2 separate regions of the Homo sapiens genome follow, and region 1 is linked to region 2. The links come from fine-mapping of genetic effects on gene expression. A gene starts in region 2. The other region holds a variant in brackets. All regions are shown on one strand. Distances are from middle to middle.

Region 1 (15,595 bases), 55 kb after region 2:
TACGCCTGGCTAATTTTTGTATTTTTAGTAGAGACGGGATTTTGCCATGTTGGCCAGACTTGTCTCGAACTCCTGACCTCAAGTGATCTACTGCCTCAGCCTCCCAAAGTACCGGGATTACAGGCTTCAGCCACTGTGCCTGACTTATGGTTTTCCTAGTTTTCAAGTGAGATGTCATAAAACAATTGTGTTCCTCTGAGTCAGAGTGAACTATGCTTTATCAGTCTCAACAGTTTTCCAGACCTGGTCTTTATGCAACTATGCTTTAATTATTTTCTCTTCTAATCCAGTTATTTGTATTGCAATTGAACAATGACCCATCCCCTTAGAATCTTCATTTTATTCATTAATCAATGTGTAAACATGTGAACTTCATACTCTAGTTGGATAGTAGATATGCCGTAGCTGACATGTCACCATTTTATCTAATGATTATAATCTCTGAATTAGTTATAGCTGATCTCTGATTAATCTCTACCTGATATGAAATATTGAAGACGGGGCAGGGGCGAGGGTGGGGGGATTTGTCTTACTGTGGCTTTCTGGGAAACTCAGCGTGTTTTATTTTTGTTGAAAGGACAATTAACTTTTTACACTGCAAATACAGAACTGATGTTCTATTCAAACTTTTGTTCATGGCTTCCCTTTTCCAGCCAGCATTACCAGTATTTAAAGTTTCTGAGTTCATAGCCAATTCTCTAGCTTTGTGAGGAAATTTCCAGTAATTTTATTATGCATCAGTCTATGAATATGGTTTTGAAAGTTTTCTCTTTTTTAGAAAGTTGCTTCAATGCAATTCTCTAAACAGTCTGCACTTGAAAAATCAATTTGTAAAATCAATCTTGATAATTTCAAAGCAAAAGAAGTGATTTGTTTTTCCTTCTGAGTCACTTTTTTGGGATTGGACAATATGAGCAATTCCTTCAGTTTTGTCACCACCATCCTTTCATTTAAAAATGAAATGGCACCTAGTGTACAAAGGGTTAACTGATATAATCAGTTATCCTTCCCGTATTCATTGTGTGGACAAAGTCTTGAAGTAACAAGTCTGTGTTTCTGATTATTCTATGCCAGATCTTTTTTTCCCTCCCTTTTCTTGAGCTGGTTCAGTTATTGGATTTTTTTGTTTGTTTGTTTTGCTAAGCAGCCTATGATCTAAAAACTGCTAATGAAGAAGAATACATTATCGGAAAGGTCAAATTGCCAGCCTCCCTCTCCCTGTCCTTCCAAGTACAGGAGCAGTCTAATATCCCTGCTCCTACCCTGGAGGGATGCATGAAGGAGCTGTATGGAGCTGTCAGTTACTCACAGAGAGAAGATTGGGAATAGAAGTGAAGGGGAGTGAGTTCAGAGCAGATCCTAGATGGCTGGATGTGGGAGCTCCTGTGCTTCCTACCTCAGTTAATGATATGTTTGAACTAACACAGCTGATCTCTAAATTAAGGTTTTCTTTAATTTACTGCAAGACCAACATCTTTTCCAAGAAATTTATGAGAAATCATTTTATAACTGATCAAAAGCTGGCAAGAATTGGCATAGCATAAAATGAAGAGTGTTTTAAAACTGGTGAATAAATTAAAATAGATAAAAATGATGTGATTTAATAATATTGGGGAAAAAAGAACTAAAATAGCTCAGTTTAAATATAGAGGACTAATGAATGTATGTCTTACCATACTGTGTGATTTCAGATGAGATCGGGCACATTCAGGGTGGTGTGGCCATAGACTGTACTGCATGATTTCAAAGGAAGAGCCACCCTTCGTTGTTCCCAGGGCTAAAACATAGACCTACATGTTTGTCATTTTTGTCTGAGTGCCAAAGCTTACTTTCTTCCCCTCCAAAAGGCCAGCCAGTTAATTTAGGAATAATCTTTACAAAAAAAAAAAAAAAGAAAGAAAAAGAAAAAATACATATATTGGCCATTCTCTATTTGGAAGCATTATGCTCCAAACAAGACCATCCTGGACTGTTCCAGAATTGGGTTTCAGGCCCAACTGATCCACTAGTTTGACTTTATCCAAGTCCCTAATCTCAATGAATCTCAGAGGGATAACATGAAATAATCAATATGAAAGTTGAAAAAAATCTCTAATATTATCTAGATACATATATTCTCTTTGTTCATGTTCTCTTTCCCCTCTGTTCAATTCTAAAATCTCTATCTGTATTGTCCTTCTCTGATTCTCAGAACAACCCCATAAATACTATTATTATCCTCATCGTATAGATGAAAAAACTATGATATTAAACAAGGTTGCACAGTAGTGGAGCCAGAATTCAAACCCATGCATCCTGACCCTAGAGCCAACACTTAATTTCTACCCTCCTGTCGGGACCATTTATATGAAATTCTGTAAGTCAGAGAGAGAGAGACACACACACACACACACACACACACACACAGAGAGAGAGAGAGAGAGACAGAGAGAGAGAGAGAGAGAGAGAGAGAAAGAGAGAGGTAGAGATCTTGAATGAATGCCCTTTATTTTCATTTACTTTTAAGGTTTTACGTTTTAAGTTAATTAAAAATTTTAGGTTTTAAGATAATAAATTAAATAAATGTAGAAGTGGGTGTAGTTAATGGCATTACTGGATAGAATAAATATAAAAATATCAAGACAAAAATTCAAGGAGTTTTAAAGGAGTAAGAGAAGAAAGTTATGTAGGTGGTAAAAGAGTATGCAAAAATATCTCTTGGTATTTAACTAAATGAGATTGTGTCCTTAATTTCCCTTTTATTCTTTTTAAGGGATGGGAGAGACATGGTGGATTCTGTTACAAAATTGACACAGTCCTTCGAAGCTTTGACCAAGCTTCCAGCGGTTATTACTGTCCTCCTGCACTTGTAACCATTACAAACAGGTAAATTAAACTTTTTTTAACAGAAACAAGACGGCTTTCACATGAGGACTCTTGGAATGATAAAATCTAGCTACAATCATAACTGTTCAAAATCTAAATTGTGCTATACATCAAAGTACTAAATTATTTAAGTTATTTATTGAGATGAATTTAAATTATACTATGTTATTCCAGAATTGATTTTTGAGTAATAAATAATAAAATTTAAGGTGACCTTTACTATCTGTAAAGATTTATTAATTATCCAGCTTTTCTAATATATTCAGATGTTTTTAGATTTTATCTTCTAACTGCTTATATGGGAAATGAAACCCGTTATTTATTTTTTATTTTATTTTTTTTCATTTTTTTGAGACAGAATCTTGCTCTGTTGCCCAGGCTGGAGTGCAGTGGTGCAGTCTCAGCTCACTGCAACCTCCACCTCCCAGGTTCAAGCAATTATCTTGCCTCAGCCCCATGAGTAGCTGGGATTACAGGCACCTGCCACCACGCCCTGGTAATTTTTGTATTTTTAGTAGAGACGGGGTTTCACCATGTTGGCCAGGCTGGTCTGAACTCCTGACCTCAAGTGATCCACCTGCCTCAGCCTCCCAAAGTGCCGGGATTACAGGTATGAGCCACCGCGCCCAGCCAAAACACATTATTTAACAAGTATTTTTTTGATGTAATGTATGTGAGTTGTATGGGGGTGTTTTTAGCAGAAAAGCTATAAAATGTGGAGGATATTCAAATCCTTCACCATCACTTCTTCCATCTATTTTATTTAGATTGAGACTTCTCTGTGCACATATGCCTTCCTGATGCTGGCACAGAGACTGTGCCCTTTTTACACTCCATACAATCTGCCCCATGGTACCGATGCATAATACCTGTAGGGGATAAAAATACCAAGAGTAAAGGTGACCTCATATTAGTATCGATGCCAGGAGGACAGTGGGGGCTGGAACACCTGGGAGACCCACTCCTCCTGGGGAAGACAGAAGCGGGGTAGAACTCCAGTGGTGCCACAGGAAACTACACCTGCAAAGCAAGTCACTTGCATATTTACCTGGGCCATTGCCTTTAAAAATATTCACTGAATACCAGCAAATAGGACAACTGGTTTTACCTAGAGACCCTTCCCATATAAGCCTAATTTGTAGAGGAATTCCTGTATGATTTCTCTGCTCCTCCCACATTGGAAGTCAACATCCAAAGCTGCCAGTATGTCCTTCCTCCTCTTACCCTCTTTCTTGCCTTCTTACCCAGCTTCTGTTCCAAACAATGCACAGGAATGCATACACACACACACAAACAGACACACGCACACACACACACACTCAAATGGATTGATAGCATTTGGCAGACTAAGTCACCTGGTGAAACATTTTACTTTCAGGAGATCCTCCCGTTGAAATATAGCACTACCTTTGATGTATCTCAGCATTGTTTTTAGTTCTACCTTTCTCCTCCCAGGTTTGGCTAACAGGCAGAAGAAAGCCTTTATCAATTTGTTAACTCACCCAAAAGGTTCCAAGAACACCTTGGGTTGGAAGTCCCCCAGTCAGTGAGTCAACACTGGACTTCACAGGAGGCTGACCAATGAAGCTATACGCTCTTTTGTTAATTACAATTTAATTATGTTTTTTACCAAAGAAAATAAGTCCAATTGTTTCACCTGTTTTTTATGTCTTATTCTTTATTTTTTTGTTTAATGTTCATTGAGTGCCTGTCACATACCTGGCACTGTGTTAATTATTTTTCATATGTTATCTGACCACACAAAAAATTAATAGCCAAGAGTTTATTAGAAAATTTTTTTTGAATACCTGTTTTGTGAGAGTCCCCATATTAAACACTGACATGCTATCCACAAGAAATAAAAGGCATGCTATTATTGTCCAGTGCTTTCTGAAACCCAGCAGCTGAAGAGATCGAACATAGACACAAGAAATAAGTGAAGAAGGTAGAATAGCACAATAAATGGATAAACTCACAGTGACATTACAGATAACCCATAGTGCCACAGTGACCCAAGCTAAGGCAGAAATCTGTTAGAACAAATGCTTCATATTCCATGAACCCTTTGGGGACCTCATACAAATGACAGAAAGTATCTGGGAAAAAAATCTGTTTCATTTTCCCCAAAACTGGATACAAGACTATGTTGTGAATACTTTAAATGTTTTCTCTGGTAAACTGTATTCAGTAGCCAGCGCTCATGCCTGGTCCATCTGTAAAGCAGAACTATGGCATAGAGAAGTTTGTTTTTATCCCAGTCTTGGCCTCCTACGCCTGTCCAGATTGCCCTGTGCTGGTGTGCTGCCTGGTCACCCGCCAAGCCCTGAGGGAGTACAGATGAGCAGGATGTGTCATCTGTCCAAGTCAGTTAACATATACTTATGCTACCCCCAAAACATGTCTACATTCAAAGCAGCAACTCCAACACAGGACTCATGAGTTGAAGAAAGAAAGGGCCAATGCTCTTGGTTTTTAATCATTCAGAGTCCATCAGGGAAGAAACAAGGGTCCACACTGTACTGCTTTTGATTCACCATACACGTTGGAATTTTTGCAAACAGCATCTTTTGTCTGAGAAGGTTGGGCAGTAGATGGAAAGTGTCTCAGATCCAGGAGTGTCCACTAGTGGCCATGGTAATCATTTTCTTCCATTACTGATTTCCTGTTTAAGACACTCCTGTCACTCTTCAGTACCCAAGCTTGTAGTTGCTAATCGATTTTCCACTCTTCTGCACAATGGAATGACAGGTTTGATGGGCACAATTAGAACCACCTGCTACAAATTACTTATTTCTTTTGTGATCAGGCAACTGCTCCTGGTCTAAGACTTTTAACACTTTGTGGAATAGAGAGGGGAAGAAAAACAGATCCTTATTGTTGAGTAACAAATTTTTGTTTGCTTGCTGATTGTTACAAAATTTTTTCAGGCCTGGCCACTTTGCTTCCAGACAAAGCATGAATGCAAAAGTTGAGTTCCAAAATTATAATGGATAATTGGCTAAATCCATGTATGTCTAAATTTTGAATCAATCAGCCATAGAATATTGGTACAAAATAATCCAAATGGCATTCAATTTTGTGAATTTTGCCAAAAGTGAGAAATTCTGCAATATCTCATTTTCTCCTAAGTTTATTTTACTTTCATTTATTTTTGAGACAGTGTCTTACTCTGTTGCCCAGGCTGGAGTGTAGTGGTGCCTTCATGACTCACTGCAGCTTTGACCTCCTGGGCTCAAGTAATCCTCCTGCCTCAGCCCCCCAAGTAGTTGGGACTACAGGCATGTACCACCATGCCTGGCTAATTTTTTAAAATTTTTTACAGAGACAGGTTCTTGCCATGTTGCCATGGCTGGTCTTGAACTCCTGGGCTCAAGCAATCCTCCTGCCTCGGCCTCTCAAAGTGCTGGGATTATAGGTGTGAGCCACTATACCCCTCCTAAGCTTAAATGTGCATTATTTTAAAGCATTTTTACAGCTCTACCGTTTTCCTGCAACTGTCATATCTCCCCAAAACACTTTTGCAGTTAATATTTTTTTTATTGTGGTAAAATATACGTAAAACACACATAAACGTAAAATTCACCATGTTAGTCATTTTTCAGTGTGCAGTTCAGTGTCATTAACTGCATTCAGATTGTTGTTCACCCACTACCATCATCCATCTCCAGAACTTTTTTCATCTTCCCAAACTGAAACTCTGTACCCATTAAACAATAGCTGCCTATTCTCCCCTCCTCCCAGACCCTGGCAACTACTATTCTATTTTCTGTCTCTGTGAGTTTAACTACTCTACATGTCTCATATAAGTGGAATTATGTTTTTCTGTGTCTGGTTTATTTCATTTAGCATGTTGTAGTGTCAGAATTTCGTTTCTGGAAATTCTGTTTTAAGGCTAATTCATATTCCATTGTATGTATATACACATATTGTTTATCCATTCATCCATTAATGGACATTTGGGTTGCTCCCACCATTTGGCTATTGTGACTAATGCTACCATGAACATGAATGTACAAATACCCTTCGAGTCCCTGCTTTCAATTCTTTGGCATGTATGCCTATAAGTGAAATTGCTGGATCATATGATAATTTGATTTTAAATTTTTTAAGGAACCACTGTACTCTTTTCCATAATGGCTACACCATTTTCCATTCCCACCAGTAGTGCATAAAGGTTCCAGTTTCTCCACATCCTAGCCAATGCTTACTATTATCTGGTTGTTTTGTTTTGATAATAGCCATCCTATTGGGTGTGCAGTGGTATTTCACTGTGGTTTTGATCTGCATTCCACTGGTGATTGATGATGTTGAACATCTTTTCACGTGCTTATTGGCTATCTGTGTATCTTCTTTGGAGAAATGTCTATTCAAGTCCTTTGTCCATTTTTTAATTGGGATGTTTGTCTTTTCTATTGTTTAGTTATAGGAATTTTTAATATATTCTGGATATTAATCCCTTATCTGATGTACAACTTGCAAATACTTTCTCCCATTTTGTGGGTTGCCTTTTCATTCTGTTGATAGTGTCCTTTGATGTGCAAAGTTTTTAATTTTTATAAAGTCCAATTTATTAATTTCTTATTCCGTTGCCTGTGCTTTTGGTATCATATACAAGAAATCATTGCCAAATACAATGTTATGAAGTCTTTTTCCTGTGTTTCCTTGTAAGAGTTTTATAGTTTTAGCTCTCATGTTTAGGTCTTTAATCTACTTTGAGTTCATTTTTGTGCATAGTATAAGGTAAGGGTCTAACTTCATTCTGTTGCAAGTGGTTGTCTAGTTTTCCCTGCACAGTTTATTGAGAAGACTGTCCTTTCTGCACTGAACAGTCTTGGCACCATTCTTGATAATCATTTGACATATATGCAAGGGTTTATTCCTAGTCTATTCCACTGGCCTATGCGTTAGTGTTTATGCTAGTACCACACTGGTTTTTTGTTTTGTTTTTGTTGTTTTTGAGACAGGGTCTCACTCTATCACCCAGGCTGGAGTACAGTGGTTCAGTCATAGCTCACTGCAGCCTTGACCTCCTGGGCTCAAGCCATCCTCCCGCCTCGACCTCCCGAGTAGCTGGGACTACAGGCATCTAACACCACCACCCACAGCAAATGTTTTTTATGTTTTGTAGTGACAGGATCTCACTATGTTTCCCAGGCTGGTGTTGAGCTCCTGGGCTCAAGCAGGCTGCCTGCCTCAGTCTCCCAAAGTGCTGAGATTACAGGCATGAGCCAATATGCCCAGCCCACACTGTCTTGATTACTGTAGCTTTGTAGTAAGTTTGGAAATCAAAAAGTGTCAGACCTCTAACTTGGTTTCTTTTCACGATTATATTGGCTATTCAGGGTTCCTTGAATTTCCATATGGATTTTAGGATGAACTTTTCTATTTTTGAAAAAGATATCATTGGGATTTTGATAGGGATTGCATTGAATGTATACATCACTTTAGGTAGTATGAGCATCTTAACAATATTAAGTCTTCCAAGGCATGAACACGGGATTTATTTCCATTTCTCTGTGGCTTCTTTAATTTCCTTCAGCACCATTTTGCAGTTTTCAGTATACAAGTCTTTCACCTTTCAGTATACAAGTTTTCAGTATACAAGTCTTTGTGTAGTTTATTCCCATGTATTTTGGGGGCACTATTGTAAGTGGAGTTATTTTCTTAACTTTCTTCTGGCCAAACTCCACATCGTTCTTCCTGTCGACGGCCTGCCGGCATCTGCCAGTGCCTGTCGGTGTGCTCTTCCACCGGTGTGTTCCTCTGGATGTCCAGCCGCTTGTCTGTCTTCCAGCTAAGGCCTCGGGGGATTTTACAAGCACAGGATGGGGGTGTGGCAAGCCAGGGTGGTCTTGGGAAATGCAACATTTGGGCATGAAAACAGAAATGCTTGTCCTCACCTAGGTCTGGGGGCAGAGGCTGGGGGTGGAGCCCTAACCAGGGACCCCGCCCTTCTCCTCCCAGCACTTCCCTGACCCGGTATTACTACTCTGCCTCAGAGGAGATAGAGAAAAGCAGATCGTATATTATTGAGAGCATGAACCAACAGAAGTGTAAGGAAAATTACAACAGCATGTAGGCAATATTTAGTCTTCTATATGTTCCTTTTGAAGCACATTTATATAAGGTTCTGCCAGTATGATCTGGATTAAAAAAAGAACTTTTCTTGTTTCAAATGTGTGCTATTTAGGTTATTAATAGAGTATCTGCAGAAAATATTTACTAAAGTATGACGAAAATCCATATCCCCTGCAAAGATGAGTACCATAAATACCTAAGATCTCTAAATGTTGCTAATAATATCTGTAAGGCACTTAAAATTTTTACTTCTTTTTATTCTTTTCTCTTTTTATCTCCTATTTCCTTTGAGACTCTTCTATTCATAAATGACCTCATTGCTTTTGCTTCCCTTAGCAAGTTAAGGATGCACAGTAACGAAAAAAGCCACCAAAATTGAATGAAAAGATCTAATTTGCTTTCTCCTTAGGTTTCCTGGGTAATGGCTTCAGCCTTTCCTTTTCCATTGACTCAGCAGGTCTGCCCAGAAGTCGCCACTGTTTCAAATGTGCTTCTTCTAACTTTGTATGTTCTAAAAATAGCTTTCTCAAGATAGTTTCAACTTAGCTGAAAGGTTCAATGCTAGTTAAATTTTAATAGTCATGTTTTTCTTAGTAGGTGTGCATGTGGAAGCATGTATGTGAGTCTTCTATATTCTGCTTTTGATGCATTCATACTGGAAAGGGGGCACTGCCACCAATCATTGAACAGTAATTCATTCAGCTGTTTGGGAAGTATATTAGTGGATGTACGGCCTTAGATTAGTTCCTAGGCTTTCACATTTTTCTTCAGTGAACATGCAGATTTAAACACATTTGAATAAGCTGAGACCTACCTCTGCCTATGAACACACTGATTTGGGAGACATAAAATTGCTACTTTAATTTCTGTTTCTTTCTCACCAGGCAAGTGAGGTAGGTGGGTGTGTGTGAACTCTGTATTAGTAAATGCTCATTCAGAAAAGCATAATATCTTTCCTCCTCCCTCCTGCCCACCTTTACCCCGTGCATATTGTGGCATGGTGTGTGTGGTGTGTGGCCTAATTACAAAATAGGCCACATCGTACTCCAAGAAATGCATTGCTGGCCATGTGAACTTTACCACCTATGCTTTGAAACTGGAGCTGGACTCTCTATTCTGTGCAAGAATTAAGCCCCATATGCAAGAGTCAGATTCTGCTCACTCATATAGTTCTGGGAATTGCACTGACATTCGGCATTTATTAGTAATGTTCAGGGTCTTTGGGTGTTTTCCTGTTCCATGTTCTAAAGAATTGATGAGAAATGCTTACTCTGGGGCCATTCTGTGCACTTCATTATGCTTTAATGACATTTTTTTATTGCCCAGAAACTTAATGTAACCACTTCTTTTTTCCCCTTTTAAGGTTTGAACAGGCTTTTATTACCAGTTTGATCAGTAGTGTGGTAAAAATGAAGGACAGTTATTTTTGGATAGCTCTTCAGGACCAAAATGATACGGGAGAATACACTTGGAAGCCAGTAGGGCAGAAACCCGAGCCGGTGCAGTACACACACTGGAACACACACCAGCCGCGTGAGTAGAGTGTGCTGCATCACCAACCCTCCCTGTTTTCTTTACTCCAAATTCCTTCCACCCCTTGG[C/T]CCACCTCCTTTGATTCTTTCTTAATGTTTTCTTAATGCCTAAATCAATTACAAGGATCAACACAGGTTAACAGGGGGTGACATATGGCTGATCTTTGTTTTTATTTATTTTATTTGTTTGTTTGTTTGTTTGTTTGTTTGTTTGTTTTGAGACGAGGTCTCGCTCTGTCACCCAGCCTGGAGTGCAGTGGTGCAATCTCGGTTCACTGCAGCCTTGACCTCCTGGGCTCAAGTGATTCTCCCACCTCAGCCTCCCCAGTAGCTGGGACCACAGGCATGCGCCACCACACCCAGCTAATTTTTGTATTTTCTGTAGAGACAGACTGATATTGAACTCCTGGGCTCAAGCAATCCTCCCACCTTGGCCTCCCAAAGTGCTGGGATTATAGACATGAGCCAAATTGCCTGGCCCAATGGTCATTTTTAAAAGTATAATCCGTATGAGTCATTTGACATGTTAAAGGTATAAATTCATCGCTCAGGACCACCACTGCCTTTATTAGCAGCAAGTCCAGCTTCTCCCTCCTAATGTCTTTCTCCCCACCTGCACCCCCCACTGTCTAAGAATCTCAAGTGCTTACTCAGTTCAGAATGGTCAGTTAAACTTCAAAGTACGGTGGATGGGCACATATGGGTACATCCAATCAGTTCACAGTCACTGCCTGGGGTACCTTAGCCAGGATTCCAGCGTTAACAGCTCTACTAGTTCATCCTCAGGTGTTCAGCTCTGAATCCCAAGGCATGAAACTGTGCCAGGTTGGTCAGTACCAGAGAAGCTGATGTCTTCCGCCACAGCCTACACTAGAACCAGTCTCTGTGGAACAAGCTTCAGGCCCTTGTATTAAGCTGAGGTTGACAGCCTAGACCCAACAGCCCTTCTACTTCAGGGTGAGTTCTTGCTTGCCTGTATCTCCATCAGGGCTGTGCCAGAGACAACAGCAAAGAGTTACTAAGTTTGTATCTAGAGGAAATGGCTTAGGGGCCCCAGGCTCTTCCCTCCCTGAAGGCCCGGAGCTCTTTATACAAATTGGTCTATTCCATCCTCAGAGCTCTATATACCAAGGTAAGGAAAGTGTTTGCTAAGCCACAGGGGGAGGTATATCTCCCCTTTAGTGTGGCCTCACACTAAAATATAAAAGTGGCCACACAAGCCTTGTTTCTCATAATTACAAAAGTCCAGTCCAAGGTGGTTTGCTAATCCCAACTCTAGACAGTGGTTGGCAAAGCTCCACCGATTTTTAAAATTCAACGATGAAATCATGAATATATTCTTACTATAGATAATGTGACCATATACCTCATTTGCCCAGAACAGTTCTAATTTATGTCTGGTGTCCCAGAGCAATTAACAGCAGGTATTTTTACTCCAAATTTTTCTGGCTTGGATGGTAAATTATGTAGATGCTCTAATTATAGAGAAGTGTGCTAAGTAAAATGTGGAAGTACTCCGTTACATCTTTCTCTTCACCTTCCCAACATCAATACATTTCCCTTTTCAGAAACAACCACTGTTAACTGTTTGGTATGATCCTGCTGGTGTTTGTCTATGCATTGCATTTAAATACATTTATGCATATGTACTTTTTAAATGGATATAAGGATTGCATGTTTCTGTTATTTGATTTTTTTCACTTAGCAATCTGTCTTAGAGAACTTTCCACATCAATATTTATTAGTCGACATTTGAAACAGCTACATAGAATTTCATAGTATGTAGGACTCATAATTTGCTTTGCCATGACCCTGTTGAAGGACATTGGGTGAAATTCATTTTCATTTCTGCTACAAAAGTGTTACAACAAATATCTCTATGTTGATGTCGCTGTGCATAACTATGAGCATGTTGGCCTAAAAGTGTACATCTTACTGAGGCATTATCAGTTTACAAGTTCATCTAACAAAATTTGAGAGTGGCAGCTTTCCCACATTTTTGTCAATACTGAATGTAACAACCTTTTACATTTTTGCCAATTTGATAGAATAAAAAAAGTTTTACTATTCTTTTAATGTCTACCTTTTCATTTAGTTATTTGAGCAATTTTTCATATTTGTTCTATACATTTTGTTTTGTTTTTCAACTACATGGTCACATAATTTGATCACTTTCTATTTTTATTTTGGACACTTTCTATTTTCTCATTACTTAGTGGAAATTTCATTATATTCTAAATATAAACTCTACATGTTTGCTATTTGCCTTTTAATTTTTCTATGGTATGTTTTGTCACACATAAATGTTAAACTTTTTGTAGTAAAAAAGTTTATATTTTTCATTTTAGCTTTGTAGATTTTTATATTTTCTAAAGGCTTTGCTCAACCAAAGATTATAAAAATATAACCTTATATTTTTATAGTTTGGCTTTTTAAATGTATAATTTTGATTGATCTGAGATTTTAAAAGTATGTTCTAGGAGATAGCTCATTTTAATTTTTCTAAATAGTAACCAATTTCAACACTATATAGTAAGTTCACCCTTTCGTCTACTGATTCGAAATACCATAATAAACATAACCTACATTCTCATTTTCTGTTTCCCTGCCAATATGGCACTAACATAATTCAAGCAGTGTGGTATTGAAAAAGAAATAGAAAAAATAGAATCAATGTAGCTGAAAAGAGAGCAGTAATACAAGAATATAATTTCTATTATTCTTAGTTTTCTTGGAGCTCTTTTTTAAAATTATTAACAGATTTTAAATTTTACTCAACACTCTGAATCTACTAAGACAATCCTAAGGTTTTCTCCTTTACTCTCTTAATATGACAAATTGCTTTACAGTAGTAAACCAGCTTTGTACTGTTGGGTAAACTTAACTTAGTGATATGTATTTTAATACATCTCTGGGTTTAGTTTGCTAGTACAAAGCTTCACCTACTATAATGTACATAAGAATATCCTGTAGATTTTGATGAAGTTAAAATTCTGATTCAGTAGATCTGGGGTAAAGTCCAAGAATCCGCATTTTTTAAAAAGCTCCTAGGTGCTGCCTATGTTGCAGGTACACAAACTAACCTTTGAGTGGTAGGTTTATGATTTTAGCAACCTTTTTTCATAGGGAAAACTAGTCCACATTTCTTCATTTGTATACAGCTTTGGTTTCATGATTATGCTAAGTTTCATAGAATGAATTGGAGAGTGTTCACTTTTATTCTCTACAGAACTATATATACAGTAAACATTTATTAGAATTTGCCTTATGTTTTATATAGGAAATTTAAAAACCACTAATTCAATTTCTGTAATGCTTATAAGACTACTGAGGCTTCCTACTTCCTTCCAAGTGCTGCTTGAGTTGTATTTCACAAGATTTAGTAGAGTTTTATAATTTTTCAATTTAGAATACATTCCAATTTCCAATATGAATATGATTTCAACCCATAAATTATTTAGAAGATTTTTTTTAATTTCCCAAAATGCAGGTGTTTCTAGTTCCTTTTGTTGTCAATACCTTATTTAATTGCACTGTGGTCAAGAAATACGGTTTGTTTGGTGCCTGTCCTTTCAAATACAAAGTTGGTATTATGGCCTTGCATGTGTTCTTTTTATATATATATATCCCATATGTACTTGAAAAGATTGTATATTCTGCTTTTGCTACCTGAAATGCTTCATCTATGTCAACAGATTATGTTAAATGTGTTGTTCAGATCATCTATAGCCTCAATATTTTTTGCCCACGTGATCAATCAATTATTGAGAGTGTTTGATACCTCCCACTATGATGGTAGATGTGTAAACTTCTCCCTGTAGTTCTGTCGAATTTTTGTATTACATACTTTTTAGGCTGTTTTATTAGGAACATACAAGTTTAGAATTGTGATATCCCACCTGTGGTGTCAAAATCGGTATAGTAGTATCCCAAGTGATCCTCTTGTTCTTTCAAAATTATTTTCTCCTTAGAGTTAATTTGTCCATGAATGTAGCTACAGTAACTTTTTAAAAATTAGTATTGGCCTAGTACATTTTTTAAATTTTTTTCTAACTTTGAATGTTTTTGTGTTCTTAGAGTTAATGTATCACTTATAAACAGCATATAACTAAATTTTTAAAACTCTATTCACACATTCTTTGTCCTTAACTGTATAGTTTGGTTTACTTATATTTTTTGTGATTATGTATAGAATTGGATTTATTTCTTCCATTTTATTATGTCCTTTCCATTTATCCTGCATTTTTTAGTCATGTTTTCTCTTCTTTCTTGCCATCTTTTGAATGTATCTTTTTCTTCTTTTCTCATTTCATTCTTTCCCCTTTACTTATCTGAAAATTGTATTATCTAAATCTATTTTTTTATTTGTTACACTAGCTATTCAACATGCATTCTTAACAAAATCAACAATATCAAAGTTATTCATCTTTAAAAGGATTATAATTTGCTGTTGCTGTCTAGTTTTGAAAATTCTGAACTGCTTCATTTCTGTTAGCCATGATTTTGTTGTTGTTATCTTTGCAATGAATATTTGTTTAGATGTATTCATATACTAGTGTACCATTCCTTCTGTGATCTGGAACACCTTCAGTTTCATATCCTTTTCATTAGACTCCCGCAACCTGAAGATGGTTGGTTTTACACAACTCTGGAAATTTTTCAAGCATTATCTCTTCAAATACTGCCTCTCCCCATTCATTCTAATATTTCCTTTTATCATTCCAATTACTCAGCCTCTCCTCCATGTTTGTTAATATTTTTAAAATATTTTCTACCTCTGTGTCTCTCAAGGATGCATTTTAAATAAAGTCATGAATTATTTCAATTCATTGATTCTCTCTTCAGCCAGATCTAATTAAATTTTATTTTTTAGTTTTCAGTGTTAGATACTATATTTATTTCATTTCTAGAAAGTCTATTTCTGTTTTAAATTTGGTTTGTGGTTCTTTGTAGTCACTTGTTTCCTACTCATATTTTAAAGATTCTCTTTCATTTCCTTAAATGTATCCGAGTTATTTTGTATTTGGTTTCTAATAATCTCATACCTGAAGTTGTATGGGTCTGTTTCTGGATCTCATCTCTTTCATTTTGTGGGTTTTGCCTAGAACTACTGATTTTTC
Region 2 (15,595 bases):
GGTTGTTTGGTTCTGTTTTCATTGTTGGGTCTTTTTCCCACTGGGTTTGATCAACTCTGACTTGATCAAATCCAATGAAAGTTCTAAATTATGGGGAACAAGGCTTCTGAAGTGGCTAAATTCCCACAAATATAAAAAAAGGTGGTGTGGTAGAGGGGAGAAAAATGATCAGCAAAGGGAAAAAAAGAGGAAAGATTTTCGATTTTGACTACTAAGTGGCTTTACTTACATAACAAGACCACTTATTTGCTAGCCAGGCCAAACTGAAACAGCAATAGCGATACTTCTGAAATTGCAGCAATTTGTTCTAGCTGAAATATGGTAATGGAACTTAAAAAGATTTTTTTTAAAGAAGCTCAATGGTTAAAAGTCAGCTTAATTGAAAGCTAACATCCAAGGTGTGTGTGTGTGTGTGTGTGTGTGTGTGTGTATGTGTGCATATGTGTGTGTTTGTATTTAAAATGCCTTCATGTTTTTCTTCTTGTTTTTCTCCTAGGACTTTGTCTGTTTTTGAGCAAAAGTTTTTTCTTCTCAGTTGCCTGAATTCTGTTTTCTTCATTTACTTCTGTTGTCTCTCCTTTCTTTTGCACTCTCTGCTGTATGGGGTACCTAAAACAGTTTATAGCAGTGTGGGGCTCCATAAAGAAAATAGAGAAGGTAGCAGGCTCCCTTTAGGGGAGAAACCTGTTTTGCCTTATGGAATCACAAGAATGAAAACAGACAAGTTTGTCTCAGCTCTTAAACTGCTTACTTTTGTATTGTGTTTCCTGTTTGTTTGTTTGTTTGTTTGGGTTGTTTTGTGTGTGTGTGTGTGTTTTGCCTAAAATAGTTGTTGCAGCAGAGGTTACTCTTGGTTTTTTAAGGAAGAGTGTGGTTTGTTCAGACACTTGGAAATGTCTTTATTTAAAAAAAAATTTTTTTAAGTGCACTGTAAAAGCATCACATGGTCTAAACTCATAATAATTCTTCCTTTTTGGAGACCCAGGATTCAGTGTGAGCTTTGCCCAGAGCTCAGAGATCCTGTTAAAAGATAGGTAGTCCCTATGTAGACAAAATTGGTCCTCTTATACAATCCTGTGATAGATTTCTATAATTTTTTGTCTGATTTGGCATCCATCTTTAATATCCCTCTAGGACCACCAGATATTTTCTCTCTGTACCTTATGACATAAATTTTGCTATTTGGTTTTCACCTGGGTTGTTTCCTTTAAATGCAAATTTAAGGCTATTTAGCTGACAACTGCCTAGGGCTGTGAAACAGTTTATCTAGAATCTGAAAGTGTAAGATAGAAAAAAAAAGGTTTTTATGAATCTATAAGATGTATTTCTATCAGCATGCCTAATATGTCTTTGTATTTATTTGTTGTGTACACAATGTTTCACTACTGAAAATATATAAAAAACCTCTAATTAATTGGGTTAAGAAAATAAAAGCACTTGAATCAAATACTTTATCAGGATAAAAGAAAAGACTAGTCAAATGCTTTTTCAAGCTTATGTAACTTAAGTAAAATCTTTAATAAGTTAGCTTTACAATTATTGGTAAAGTATTGTTAGAAATGTCTTAAGAATTGCCAGCATACGTTTTTGTTTGCATTTATAAATCAGGCAATTTCATATTTTTCCCTGCCAAATACTATAAGTTGTCAAAAATTGGCATAGGGGTTATAAAACTATACACCCAGCCCAAATCAGAAAGACCTTTGCTTGAGTAATCTTTAATAAGATATTGATATTGGTTTAATAAAAAATTCTACATCTTGAATTTAGTACGATTACCATATCTTCTAATCTTGTGGCTTTAGGTGGTCCATTCTACAGGCAGTAAGGTTTGTTTTGGGAAAGGACTGTCACAGTCTTTGTTTTAAAGCTAAACTATCAACTAAGTTCCTCCCAAAGTTAGTTTGACCTATGCCCAGGAATGAACAGAACAGTTTGGAGGTTAGAAGTAAGATGGAGTCAGTCAGGTCAAATCTTTTCCACTCTCTCAGTTACAATTTCGCAATGGTGGTTCTGTAACTTTAAATAATGACAATCACGGTTTTTGTAAATACTCTAAGTAAATGACAAAAAAATTATTAGGTAAATATAATAGGATAAATACTTGTAGACAAGCTCATCATAATTTAGAATCTAAAGTTATATCAAATTAAATCACATATATTTTATTATTTGGGTATTTTCCAATAAAAATATATTTGTAGGAAAACATTCAAAACAAATGTGTCCTTTAAAAAAAAAGGTGAACAATTTTTATCTAATTCAAAGCTTATTTAAAGGTCATGTATAAAACAAGGTAAAAGGAACCAGGAAATAAAAGAGATGTACAGAAAGTTATTAAAATAAAGAGGGGTTTTTTTGTGAGAAAGCGTAAAGGGAAATAATTTCATATGAGAAAGAATCTCGTATGGTAAATTTAGTCCTAGAGTAAAATGACTAGTTGCTTAAGAAAGAGGGATGTTCAAAACAAACCAGAAAGTACAAGCATGTCATGAATGGTCTATGTAAGTCACAATAAGAGGATTTATTTTTTTAAAAACCAAAAACTTTTATATGATCAAGTTGTCATATTATTATTTAAGTTTTGGGTTGCTTAGGAAAAAAACTGAGATTAAAATTTTTTAATTAAGGTTATTACATCCATCTATCTTTCATCTCTCCATATGCACTTTTAAAATACTTGTGACACTGAGTTACAGGGCTTTGACTCCTGGGTCTAAAAAGGACAACAACTCCTACTACATTTTAAACACTGACAGCAATTAAAGCCCCATTTTCAGGCCCTGTAGGAGATGCCAATCAAAATAAACTGCATTCCTAAGACACAGGACCAGAAATTAAAGCTATTTCAACTCAAGGCCCAGGAACTATCATGGAAAAGGTGGGCATGTGAGATTCTAAGGGCTGATTTTGAAAGATAAAATAAGTTCAGTTTCTCTAAAAAGTAATAATTAATGTTAAAGGCGCAGTGATGCAAGACTAGCATATTGGCCCCTTTGTCAAATTAACAAGGTTTTCTTGAAGCATTAACTGACTCCTCAATAAAGGTTATAAAAGGCTTATGGAAGTTGTATCTTACGGTCAAGATTAAAATTTTATAGATCATTTATAAAATTTCAAAAAACAAATTTAATTGGCTTCATGCTGTTTTTATTAGAGCTTATTGTTTGGAATGTCAAGTCTCCTTTCTCAAAGAATGAAGGTTTTTGCCTTTTTAAATCCTTGAGTTATCACTTTGGTTAAATGAATGATCTTATTTTGTGATATCAAGGGCTTTAAACCTTTGATATTTGATGAACTTTCCAAAATCAAATTATAAATTATGTCTTTTTCTAACCTAATCAATCCTTTAAGATATTAAGTTCCTTAAAGTTCAAAGATGACATAGTTTGGTTTGTCTGGTATAAATATTATACAGGAAACATTGTCAAAGATGAAATGGTGTTTGGTTTTCTTTAGGCTGTATTTATATAAATATATGGTATCTGTTCCAAAATCATGGGAACTCCTATAATTCTGATATGACTTACTGTATATTATCAGTAATACTTATAATTGTTATGTTAAATTATTGTGTGCCACAGATGTAACAAATTTCCTTGTCAATTGTGTCTTTGACCATGGCTGCCCTAAAATTTTTTGTCATCCACAGACAATTGTTGTCTTGTTTTGGTCCTCTTTAGGAGGTGGTTTTCTAATCTGCTATAAAAGTCTAACAGGTGTTCTTAAATGCCGGTTTCTGATAACTTTGGAGATTGTGACATTAGAATAGAGGAAAAACTTTCAGGACTCTCATGGAGAGCTAAAATGTTCATGAATATCAAGCAGAACAGGAGTTAACTATGTAAACTGAACTGATAGAAGACTAATTTTTTGATTTTTGCTTTAAATGTTGCTGATCCTTTGTTCTGCTTTTTTCAGAGTCAAGGAAACTTTTCTTTTGAGCTATTGACAGCTTTAACAATTTAGTATACTCCTATGAACACAATTTGGAGCATATCTGTTTCCCTCTACCTGATTTCTCCAGAATTTGGAAACTATCTGTGAGTATTCTTAACTTATGGCAATACAGTTATTTGCATAACTGCAATAAGAATCTGTTTTCATTTTGCAACAGGACGCAATTGGAGACATTGGTTATTTTACCAAGGCTTTAATGGTGTGCTTTCCTTTAAGGAATCAAACTTGACTTATGGAGTCAATAAAAGCCCTTGGGGAAACTGGTCTCATACCTTCCCTGTACAGGGTTCCTGACCTGTGGTAAGTAAAGAATGTTACTTTCTGACAGGCCCAGGAGCTCCAAGTTTATCTTGGAACCTCAAGAGGAAAGGATCACCCAATTCACAGGTATTAGGTGGCACAAATTCACGGCTGGGCTCGGCTTTAAAAAAGTCTTATCTGAGATTCCTTCTATGGAATAAAGTCCCACCAAAGACAATTTAAAAGCCTATGTAAAAAAATAATTATTCTTGCTGCACAGTATGCAAATAATTAGGATAAGTATAATAAAGCAAATCAGTCCTACCATGATTTGTCTTTAAAAATGGGAAACTGGAGAGAGAAAAATTATGTTTCAAAAACTGTAGTACACCTGTTGTTAGATTCTAGTCTTGTCTGATGTTTTTCAGTTTTATTATTTTCTACAGTTTGGACTGAATTCTAATTTTTTTTGGCTATAAGTTTTCAAAATAATGTTTTTAATTTTTTTTCCTTTTCCCCCCATTTTTCCTAATTTGGAGTCACTGAAAACAAAGCTGTGCTTTTGTAAAGCTCTGCAAACTGAAACTAGACAACTTGAACTTCAGAAGAAAATAACAGCAAAACCTATTTACATACATAAGCCACTTTCATACCTGCCTACTGATGTATGGACTTCAGAGTAATGTGGTCTACATTGATTTTCCAAAATATTTCTTTTGTTTATTGTTGTTGTTCTCCCTTCCTCCCCCTATTTTCTCTTCATAGGACATGAGACTTTACAACTTTCTAAAAATGAGCTTTCCTAATAACTCAGGACCTACCTGTCTAGGAATAAATCATCCTAGCCATGAGATATCAGATAAAAGACTAAACCTGGAACCAGAGACTAATTTGCTCCAAACGATTTATTTTTTTGAGACAGAGAATGCACCTATCATGCAGGCTGGAGTGCAGTGGCATGATCTCAGCTCACTGCAATCTCTGCCTCTCAGGTTCAAGCGATTCTCTTGCCTCGGCCTCCTGAGTAGCTAGGATTACAGGCGTGCACCACCACACCCAGCTAATTTTTGTATCTTTAGTAGAGACGAGGTTTCACCATGTTAGCTAGGCTGGTCTTGAACTCCTGACCTCAGGTGATCCACGTGCCTCAGGCTCCCTTAATGCTGTGATTACAGGTGTGAGCCACCATGCTCGGCCTTCAAAAGATTTTTCAAAAGAAAAGGGGGGAAATGCGAAAGAAAAATATCTTGGGCCCCCCAAATCATTAAGCTAAAGGGAAAAGTCAAACTGGGAACTGCTTATAGCAAACCTGCCTCCCATTCTATTCAAAGACTTCTCACCAAGATAAACGCATATCTGATTGCCTGCTTTGGAGAGGCTAATCAGAAACTTGAAAGAATGCAACCACTTGTCACTTATCTACCTATGACCTGGAAGCCCCGCTCTCCACTTCAAGTTGTCCCGCCTTTCCAGACCAAACCAATGTTCATCATACATACATTGATTGATGTCTCATGTCTCCCTAAAATGTATAAAACCAAACTGTGCTCTGAACACCTTAGGCACAGGTCATCAGGACCTCCTGAGGCTGTGTCACGGGTGTGTGTCCTCAACCTTGGCAAAATAAACTTTCTAAATTAACTGAGGCCCATCTCAAATTTTGGGGGTTCACAGTCCCTTGGGTAAACATTCAACAAACCAGGACCTCACCCTTTCTTGCTGATACCCTGATTCATACAGTGCTCAAAAAGTTTTGTTAATTTTGACAAACCGCAACCTATACATTGAGTTTTAAATCCCATTTTCTTTACTGTCAATACCATTCAAAGTTTTAATATTTTTCTCAAGTTTCAAATCACTCCACACACTGTACAGTAAGTCTTCACTTAACACCATGGACAGGTTCTTGGAAACTGCAATTTTAAGTGAAATGACATACAGCAGGTCCTCAAACAACATTATTTCCTTCACTGTGATTTCATTATGACATTGATGAGAAAAAGAAAATTGGTTTCATTATATGCCATTTTGCTTAAAATCATAGTCTCTAAGAACCTATAGATGACGTTAAGTGAAGACTGACTTCATTTCTTTCAACCTCTTTCTTTTCCTCCCTCATTCCTTCGCTCATTCAGCAGAGACTGAGAGATGACTAAGTGCCAGGAAGTGTGCTGCCCTGGAACTCACATTCAGGTGAGAGATATAAATAATGAATTCCAACTCCAAAGGAGAAGGGAAGCAATGGGAAGCTGTACAAAGGCCAGCAGGCACTGAGCCCTCCCTGCTGTGTTCCCCAGCTGAAGTCCAGAGCCATAATTACCACTAGCACAGTGCTCTGTAGCATGGCTTCTGAGCTCTCCTTTGCTCTTGCTCTCTGCTCCTCACTCCCTCCCCACACACCCACAGCTCCCAGAGGTGAACTTTACAGTGTGTTAGCACTGTGCTAGCACTCTGCATACATTAGCTCATTTAATGCAACCACACAATGAAGCAAACATTATTATCTCCATTTTACACAGAAGGAAACTGAGGCTGGGGCAAACTAAGTGGTGTGCTGGTAAGTGGCAGAGCTGCCTCATTTAACCATGACCCTACACTGCCTCATGAACCTGAAACACACGTGAGCCCAGGATATGGGTGCTGGTCATTTTCTTGAAGGTTAAAAAGCCCTTTACCACAGATTTCCATTTCAAAGCTGCAGTGTTTCAGGAAGAGATTTTTTTTAAAAAAAGAAAAAGTAGCTCTTTTCTGAGTGTTCTAATGGTTGAATAGAAAATACGGGGTTGGTAGGCCAGGAAGCTGTCAACACCTCTCTTCATTATACTAATTGCTCTGAAGATGAAATAAGGTTTGTTTCTCCCTTCTTATCCTACTCACAGACCTAGCTCTGCTACTTCAGAATAGCATCTGCTATGGGTCAAGGGAGGCATTTTCCCCCCTCATTATACAGAGACTAAAACAGGACCATAGCACGTGAATAACTCACCCTGGTCCACAGCCAGTGAGAGGTAGCCCAATGTCCCAGCAACTGTCCTCATTCGTCAGGGTGCCCCAGTGGCTGCCTTTATTTCAGCCAGGCATGCCTCACTCTCTCCCATACAAGCAGTTCTCACTCCAACCTTTGTATAATTTTTTTTTTCACAATTTCTTCCCATCCTAGAACAGCCTCTTCCTCCCAATACCCACCATACTATCTGAGCATAGTTAGGCCTCTATGCCCACTCCAGCCTAGTCTCTCTCCCCTTTACTCTCACTGCCCTGGACCTCACCAGAGATTAGCATCAGTGTCCTGTTTTATGACCTAATTATGTCATGTGCATTGCACTTGCCTGCTGCAATACATGCCAGCCTGCTCGGGCAGGGCCAAATCTTCTATCATAATACTACGGGGATATTCCCATAGCAATGTAGTTCTGAGGCCATAGGAGAGATGGATACATAGTTTGTGGCTGAAGTCTGTGTAATCTACTAGGCTTAAAGCATCTCTTTTCTGCATGTTTTCAAGCAAGGATGCTGAATTCTACATGTAATGATATGTTATAAACTCTACACACATTGGAACCTCTCACATCCTCTCAACCCACCTCTTATTCCAGCCCCCTCTGCAGCCTGTTTCCCCCGGCTGTCCCCCACCCCCCAACCCTCTGAGAAACAACCTGACAGCGCCTCACCTTTTGCCATGCTATGCACCCAGGGCTTCTAAGAGACAAGGTATGGGACCATGACTGAAACTCACCACTGCTGTAGAACAGTGCAGAGGAGTTAATAACCCTAGGATCTCCCTTACCAACAGGGAAGGATAAAGTCCATGGATAAACGCTTGCCCCTTTTGTCCTCGACAGACAGTTCTGAGGCTCTCTGAGGTTCCTGCAGGACTGAGCACCTTTTGTTAAGGCCATGGCCAAGGCAACCACTTTCCCTTCTTCCCCATTTGGCTCTGACCTTCAATCTTGCTCCCTGCTAGGCATTTCCTTCCAGGCTCTGCTTTCTGCCCCTCCCCTCCCCCTCTCTTATGTTTTAATGACTAATGTCAAGGTCCCGCTGAGGAAAGGTCTTATATGAGCCTGTTCTCAGAATATTAAACGCTTCCAGTGTTCTGCTGGTTATTTGAAGGAGGACAGTTAGAACGACTACATTCTAGCCAGGGCTGTCCTACTTGCTAGAGAGTAACTTTTGCTGGATTAGGAAGTAACCTAGAGCAAAGCACTTCGACTTTCTGGGCAGGGTTTCTCAGCTGTAAAAATGGGATAATAGGGACCCCGGCTACTTTGCGGGGCTTGGGGGATCAAAGGAGTTGGAAAGAGGAGGTTATTTCAAAACCGAAGGAGCTGAATAGAAGAATCTCCGGGTTACTCTGGGGCAAGGAAGGTGGAGACCACGGCGTGGCCCCTCAGGTGTCTCCAGTGCTCCACAAGTCAAAGGAGTCCAGGACCCTCCCAAAGCGCCTGCGTCGCGGAGCAGCTGGGTTCACTCTAGGCTGCCCGCTGCAAATCCGCGGTGTTTACCAGAATCCAGGTGGTTTGCAAACCCGGATGTCAGGCTCCTTGTCCCGGAGATTCTCAAATCGCTCACCCACAACTCCTCTTCGGCCTCCCCCAGAAAGGAGAGAGCAGGGCTGCAAGCTAGAGGAGCGGAGAGTGTGACCCGAGCAGCCTCACTCCGCCTGTCCCCACCCCAAAGGCAGGAATTTCTGGGATGGGCAGATGGCCCACCCCTCCTCCTCCTCCTTCCCCAAGCCGCAGTGGGTGGGGCGAGGAAAACCTCCGCGACTTTCCCGCATCCCAGCCCAGAGCCCCGAGTGTCGGTTCACTGTGGAGACAGCGGTGGCGGAGTGGGTCTCCAGGGCTCTGGGCTGGCAAGGCCCCCGGAGGGGGTGGGGCGCGGAGGAGGCTACGGATCCGCTTCCGCGCGGCGGGGCCGGGTGCTTGGGACGCGGCTCTGGGCTCCCGGGATAAGGGGCTCCCGGGACAAGGGGCTCCCGGAGAGCCCAGTGGTTAGCGATGCTGCTGTCGCCGTCGCTGCTGCTGCTGCTGCTGCTGGGGGCGCCGCGGGGCTGCGCCGAGGGTGTGGCGGCGGCGCTTACCCCCGAGCGGCTCCTGGAGTGGCAGGGTGAGTCTCCCAGGGTCGGGGACTGGATCGGTACGTTGGGGAGGGGGGTCGGGGTGGTCGAAGGAGAGGAAGAAGGGGCGAAGCTAGGGGCCAAGCTGGCGGGCAAGGGCGGCCGCGTTTGTAGGGGTTCGTGTGTCAGCAGTCCTGAGCATGGGGGGAGCGGGTGGTGTCCTGCAGCCTCTTGTCTAGGCCCAGCACCCCACTTGCGCGGCCCGGCACCCTCCTGGCTCCTGCGGGGGTCGGGCGGCGGGGGCGGGGGGGCTTGGTCTCGCAGGTAACTCCTCTCGGCTCTGGCGCCCGGAGCCAGCCCGGGATAGGAGTGTCGGAGAAGTTTCAAAACGGAAACTTTCTGAGAGCTGCTTATTTGGGACGGATAAATGATAGCAAAAAGATGGCTCAGTTCGTCCCCTTGCAAAGCAAGCGCTCAGGGTCTGCGTCGCCACCTAGGAGTGACCCCCAAGCCAGGCCTCCCCAGTCCATCCCTTCCTTAAGGAAAACTTTTTTTGTTTGTTTGTTTTTTGAGACAGGGTCTTGCTCTGTCGCCCAGGCTGTAGTGTAATGGCGGGATCTCGGCTCACTGCAGCCTCCGCCTCCCGGGGTCAAGCGATCCTCCCACCTCAGCCTCCCGAGTAGCTGGGACCACAGGTGTGCGCCCGCACGCCCAGCAAAATTTTTGTATTTTTGGTGGAGACGGAGTTTCACCATGTTGCCCAGGCTGGTCTCCAACTCCTGGGCCCAAGTGATCCGCCCACCTCGTCCTCCCAAAGTTCTGGGATTACAGGCCTGACCCACCGCACCCCGCCTGAAAACATCAGGCCAGGTGAGGGAGAGAAGCCCCAGTGGCTCCATGAACTGCGTGATCTGAAGCCTTTATGCCTTAGTCTCTCTCAGTGGAAAAACGGGGTTCAATTCAGCAAACACTTATTGAGCACCTACTACACATGAGACTCAGAAGGTTGTGTAAAGAGAGGGAGGAGAGATTTCTGGCCTGCAGGGGCCCGCATTTGAGAATGGGCCACCTCAGGCAGAGAAGCCTGCGCCTAAGTGCAGAAGTCCATATATGCAAGTAGGAGGGGGACAGGAGGGAGTTAAATATGCCAGGAGGAGCCTCCAGACAGCCTCCATCCTCTCTGCCTTTGGAGATAAGTTTGGAGAGAAGGGGTAACACAAGATGTGATCAATATCTGCGTTCACATTTTTTCCTCCACAGTAGAATATGTCTACATTTTTGAGGTAGTCTTTTCTAGACTGTGTTTCCTAAGCTCCCTGGAGGCTTAATCAGGGGCAGGTAGAACAAGACCATTCTTATTCTAAAGTGACCAAAGTCAGAGATGCTCTTACCTTCTTGGTCAATTCAGAAAATTGCTCCTGTGGATGCACATCTGATCCTGTAGTATGTATGATTCCTTCCCACTAAGTTTACCATGCAGTGGTTATTCCTTTGCATTTTAAAATGTGGGTTTTGCCTGGGCACTAGGTGGTAGAACAGGGCAGCAGCCCACAGGACAGAAGTTGGACTGGGCCACACAGAGAGTATGTGCTGGTGATCCTCCGAGTGAAGGGCTAATCCCTTCTATATGTAGCAGAACCAAATACTGGCCTGAGACAAATTCTCATCAGTGCCTTCTTTTTAGTAGTCAAGGGCACTCTGAAATTAGAGCCATCTGCTAGCCCTTGTACCTACTAGGTGCAATTTGCACATCTGAAAAGGTTGACATAGTTGGCATAGAGATTCTTCAGATATGAAAATGCTGCTGCTGATTTTCCAAGGAGCACGGAGGTTATGTACCATTCCTCGCACAGGCACAGGCTCTCTCCCTGACTCCAGTCACCTGCATGAGTAGAATTTCAAGTGTAAGCTGGACAGGTTTGAAGTCAAGTTTTTACTGTCAATACAAAATGGAAAAACAAAATCTTAACATTGAAAAGAACCTGAGACATTGTCTACTCTAGCCCTCTATTCTTCAGATGTGGAAGTTGAGGTATGGCTACCATGTAGTTAGCCATGCTTTGGGGTGCCTCAGTTTACCGCTGTGTTCACTGTACCACATTGACTCACTTTAGCCACGATTGACATCCACAGAGCAACTGAGAGAAAAATGCACACTCATTTTCATTTCCAATCCACTAATAATGGCTATGTAATAATGCACAGCAGATTATACATACAGCATTTTTTATCTGAATTGTTTGATATGTATTATTTGTAGATCTGATATGTATTACAAGCATGCCAGCCTTGGGAGGCAGATGATGGATTGTACTGTGATGATTTTCCAATGATTTATCAATAATTCTTGATATGGTTTGGCTATGCCCCCACCCAAATCTCAACTTGAATTGTATCTCCCAGAATTCCCACGTGTTGTGGGAGGGACCCAGGGGGAGGTAATTGAATTATGGGAGCCAATCTTTCCCATGCTATTCTCGTGATAGTGAATAAGTCTCACAACCTCTGATGGGTTTATTAAGGGTTTCTGCTTTTGCTTCTTCCTTATCTTTCTCTTGCCGCTGCCACGTAAGAAGTGCCTTTCGCCTCCCACCATGATTCTGAGGACTCCCCAGCCATGTTGAACTGTGAGTCCAACTAAACCTCTTTTTCTTCCCAGTCTTGGGTATGTCTTTTTCAGCAGTGTGAAAATGGAGTAATACAATTCTGTATTCAAAAGTCAGTAGATACAGTATTATATAGTAGTTAAGTTCTCGGGCTTCAGAGCTAGACGATCTGAGTTCAAATCCTGACTATGCCATTTACCATCCGTGTGACCCTGGACAGGTATTTTGCCAGTCAGTAGCTCAGTTTCCTCATCTGTAAAATGGAGCTAGTAATAGTACACATCTAAGTGTTGTCCTTTTGCTGCTCTCTCACCATGGCACCCTCTTCCTCTGGCCAATCCAGACATTTTGACAGGTTGACAGCCCCATAACAATTACTTACTACGGTGCACAGCACTGTACTTGGCAGGTCTGAAACTCATCTCCTCCTACCTCTAGCTCAGGCATCCCCAACCTCCAGGCCACCTACCAGTTTGTGGCCTGTTAGGAACTGGGCCACACAACAGAAGGTGAGCAACAGTGAACAAAAGAGGCTTCATCTGTATTTACAGCTGCTCCCCTTCCCTCACATTACTGTCTGAGCTCCACCTCCTGTCAGACCAGTGGTGGCATTAGATTCTCAAAGGAGCATAAACCCTATTGTGAACTGTGCATGTGAGAGATCTAGGTTGCGAGCTCCTTATGATAATCTAATGCCTGATGATCTGTCACTGTCTCCCGTCACCCCAGATGGGACCGTCTAGTTGCAGGAAAACAGACTCAGGGCTCCCACTGATTCTACATTATGGTGAGCTGTATAATTACTTCATTATATATTACAATGTAATAATAATAGAAGTAAAGTGCACAATAAATGTAATGCACTTGAGTCATCCCAAAACCATCCCCCACCCCACCACCCCATTGGCCTGTGGAAAATTTGTCTTCTGTGAAACCAGTGCCTGGGGCAGAAAAGGTGGGGGACCTTTGCTCTAGCTGGTTATTCCAAGGAGCCTGATTTTAGTTTGTTTTCCCTGATCAGAATCTGAGCCCTTCTTCTAGCAAGTGCTAAGACACACTAACTTCACTCACTCAAGTACTCCAGATACAAAGTGGACAGCGGGGAGAAAGAAGAAGGGGATGGAGCATCCTGGTGAAAACTGGGCATAGTCATTGCTAAAGGAAATGATCAGGGGGCAAGTAAAAGGGTTTTGAAGCTTTGTTGAGGGTTGAAAAATGATAAATGTGAAATGGTCCCCCACTAATATATCGTAGGAGAGTTTCCTTCTGTAGTGCTCAGCTTCCCAGAGCAGGAGTGGAAAGAACCTAAGTCTGTGTCAGTGCCTGGGGACACTCAGGGGAGGCTCTTCTAAATGACCAGTGATCAAAGGAGGTGAGGGTGCAGATGAGTGTGTGGTCAGTGTGCTTGCCATCAGGTCCTATCTGGGGAGAAGAAAGTGAAACAGGGTTGGGTGTACGGGGTGTCTCTCGACATGCTGCGCCGACGGAAAGAGGGGTAGGGGCTGATGGCCTCAGTTGTTCATTATCTGTCAGGCAATATGTGCTTTATCTACCTGTTTTAGTTGGGTTCATCCAAAAGCAATTCCTGAGACATGTTTTCCTTAGGGTGCAAGTAGTTTTTTTTTTTGGAGGTGATTCTAGAAAGCATGGTAAGGGAGTGAGGACATGAGACCAGAGAGGGAAGAAAGCCACCACAGACCACTGGGGCTCAGTTTCACAAAGGACCCTTTGAGGAACTGTATAGAACTCAGTGGACCCACCAACGGGCAGGAAGCTGAAGTATTTATCCACCAACTCCCGCCTCTTATTGACTAAGGTCACTCCTGGGGCATTCACCCCCTGGTGCTCCTGGTCTCTCCCAGGCAGAGAGCCACAGAAAGTCAGTGGGAGTGCACGAGGACTGTCTGCAGGTGAGTGAGCTCCAGGTTAGAGGGTGTGAGAAGGAAACCAACAGAATCTGCTACCCACCTCCAGATTGGGGAGGTAAAAACATGAGTAGGATATGACACTGGCCCCAAGAGGCTGAGAGTCCAGGGACAGATACAGAAACATAAACAATTACAAAACAGTGAGAGAGGTCTTATGATAACCAGGGATGAGCAAAGTGCTGAAGGCATGCAGAGGAGGCACTGGCCTGGGGAGCTGGAGGCTCATAAAAAGACATTTGTTTTCCTAAAGGATAAGTAGGCAGTTACCATATAGGAAAAAGGAGACTGAGCATTCCTGGGAACATGTATTTCATGTGCAAAGGCCCAGGATCACGTGTCAGGCAACAGTAAAAGTTCAGTGAGCTGAAAGTTCCCTTCTGAGCTCTTTTGGATTCAAGGAAAGAGGCCCACTGAAGGTCACTCAGGCAAACGTGGAGTTGGTTGTAATGGTCCCAGGATCTCAAGGGGGACCCAGGACAGGTTCTTCAGGGCAGCCAGGCCTCCTGGGAAACAGGCACTGGCCACTGACATGAAGCATTACTTTATCTGTTTCTCTCTGTCTCTGGGGCTCTATGGTGGTTCCTGCTTGGTTGTTCTTTCTGTTGACTGTTTCTTTGGCTTTGACTAGTAGGACTTTCCTCTGTAGCTCCCTTAGCTTCCTGGGAAGAGTCCCTTAATTTCCTAGGAGAGGGGTCTGGTTACATTCTTCACAGCATGCTAGCTAGTTCCTGTGCTCTGCCCTCAAGTCGAAGGCCTTCCCCTGGCTAATTGGCCATGGTAGAGGCAGGAGGTGGACACAGGGATGGATGCTGCTTCATCCAGGGCTGTGGATGGTATAGACCACCAGAGTAGGGTCCCAGGCAAAACAAGAAGCAGTGACATGTCTATAGTTGGAAGCATGAGAGAGATGAGGAAGAGTTTGGTTGGAGGCACCCTGCTTCTGGAAAAAGTCTGGCTGAGTGAATTGGGTACTGCTGAGAAGGGCCCTGTGGGTTTGCACAAAGGGGAACCAGATTGCATGTTTAAGTTTAGAAGTGCCATGTTCAGTCTGGGACTTGAAGAGGGTCTCCTATCACCTTGAAGAGGGTAATTCTGGAAGGCAGCAAAGAAACCGTCTGGATAGTTAAAGCTGAGCTAAGTCAGTCCCAATAGGAAGATTGAGGAGCAGAAAGTTTGGGTTCAAGAAACAGGGTTTAAAAAGAGGAAAATATATATTTAAAAACAACAACAAAAGAAAACAGTTAGTGAAAGTTAGATGAGGGAAGATTGCAGAATAGGAGAGGTAGTGGTTATAGAGTGCAAAATCCAAGTTTTGGAGATGGACCTATTCTTGGTAGTGACCAGATCCAAGCTGTGTTTGTGGGAGTGGTCACCAAAGTGAAGAAGAGGCAAAAGAAGGTCCTCACAGCAGAGGAGGTCAGGGAGCCCAATGTCCAGAGCAAAGCTAAAGTCGAGTAGAGTTTGGGACTCTTTTGTCAGCAAACCACAATAAGAAATACATTTTACATCACAACCCACAGCATATAGGTCTACATATGTATAACTGAAACAATGTTTCATTTTTTAAAAAATACCCTTACCTAATATGACATGCTGCTACATTTCCCCCTGTTCCATTCTGTTTCGTTTTGTCTCGCTGGTCATAACACATTCAGTTGATTTCAAGACCATAAATGGGCCACAACCTGCAGTGGGGAAAGCATCGAGTCAGAGTGTTGGGTCATCTGTATGGAAGCTAAAGTGGCTTTGGGGTGTGGAGAATAGCGGGGAGTCTGCTGGTATCAAAGCCATGGTGAATGGGG

Direction of the effects. Alleles are on the strand shown, and positions count from the first base shown. SD is a standard deviation of normalised expression in the study named.
For the expression in thyroid of the gene that starts at base 8,989 in region 2, allele T in region 1 goes with a higher level than allele C (small effect, 0.34 SD a copy in GTEx).

Evidence for each region.
Region 1: its variant is fine-mapped to the expression of PLA2R1 in thyroid (GTEx, PIP above 0.99).

The regions. Positions count from the first base shown.
Region 1 is chr2:160,000,533-160,016,127 of GRCh38, reverse strand. PLA2R1 (phospholipase A2 receptor 1) reads left to right here. Exons shown (of 30, transcript NM_007366.5): 10 at 2,753-2,865; 11 at 10,307-10,476. Among named protein-coding and RNA genes, the nearest start is that of PLA2R1, 54 kb to the left of the region's middle. The variant C/T (reference allele first, on the strand shown) is at 10,545.
Region 2 is chr2:160,056,009-160,071,603 of GRCh38, reverse strand. PLA2R1 (phospholipase A2 receptor 1) reads left to right here and starts at 8,989. Exons shown (of 30, transcript NM_007366.5): 1 at 8,989-9,309. The coding sequence starts at 9,201. LOC105373717 (a long non-coding RNA gene) reads right to left here. Exons shown (of 3, transcript XR_007087274.1): 2 at 15,374-15,478; 3 at 10,803-11,141.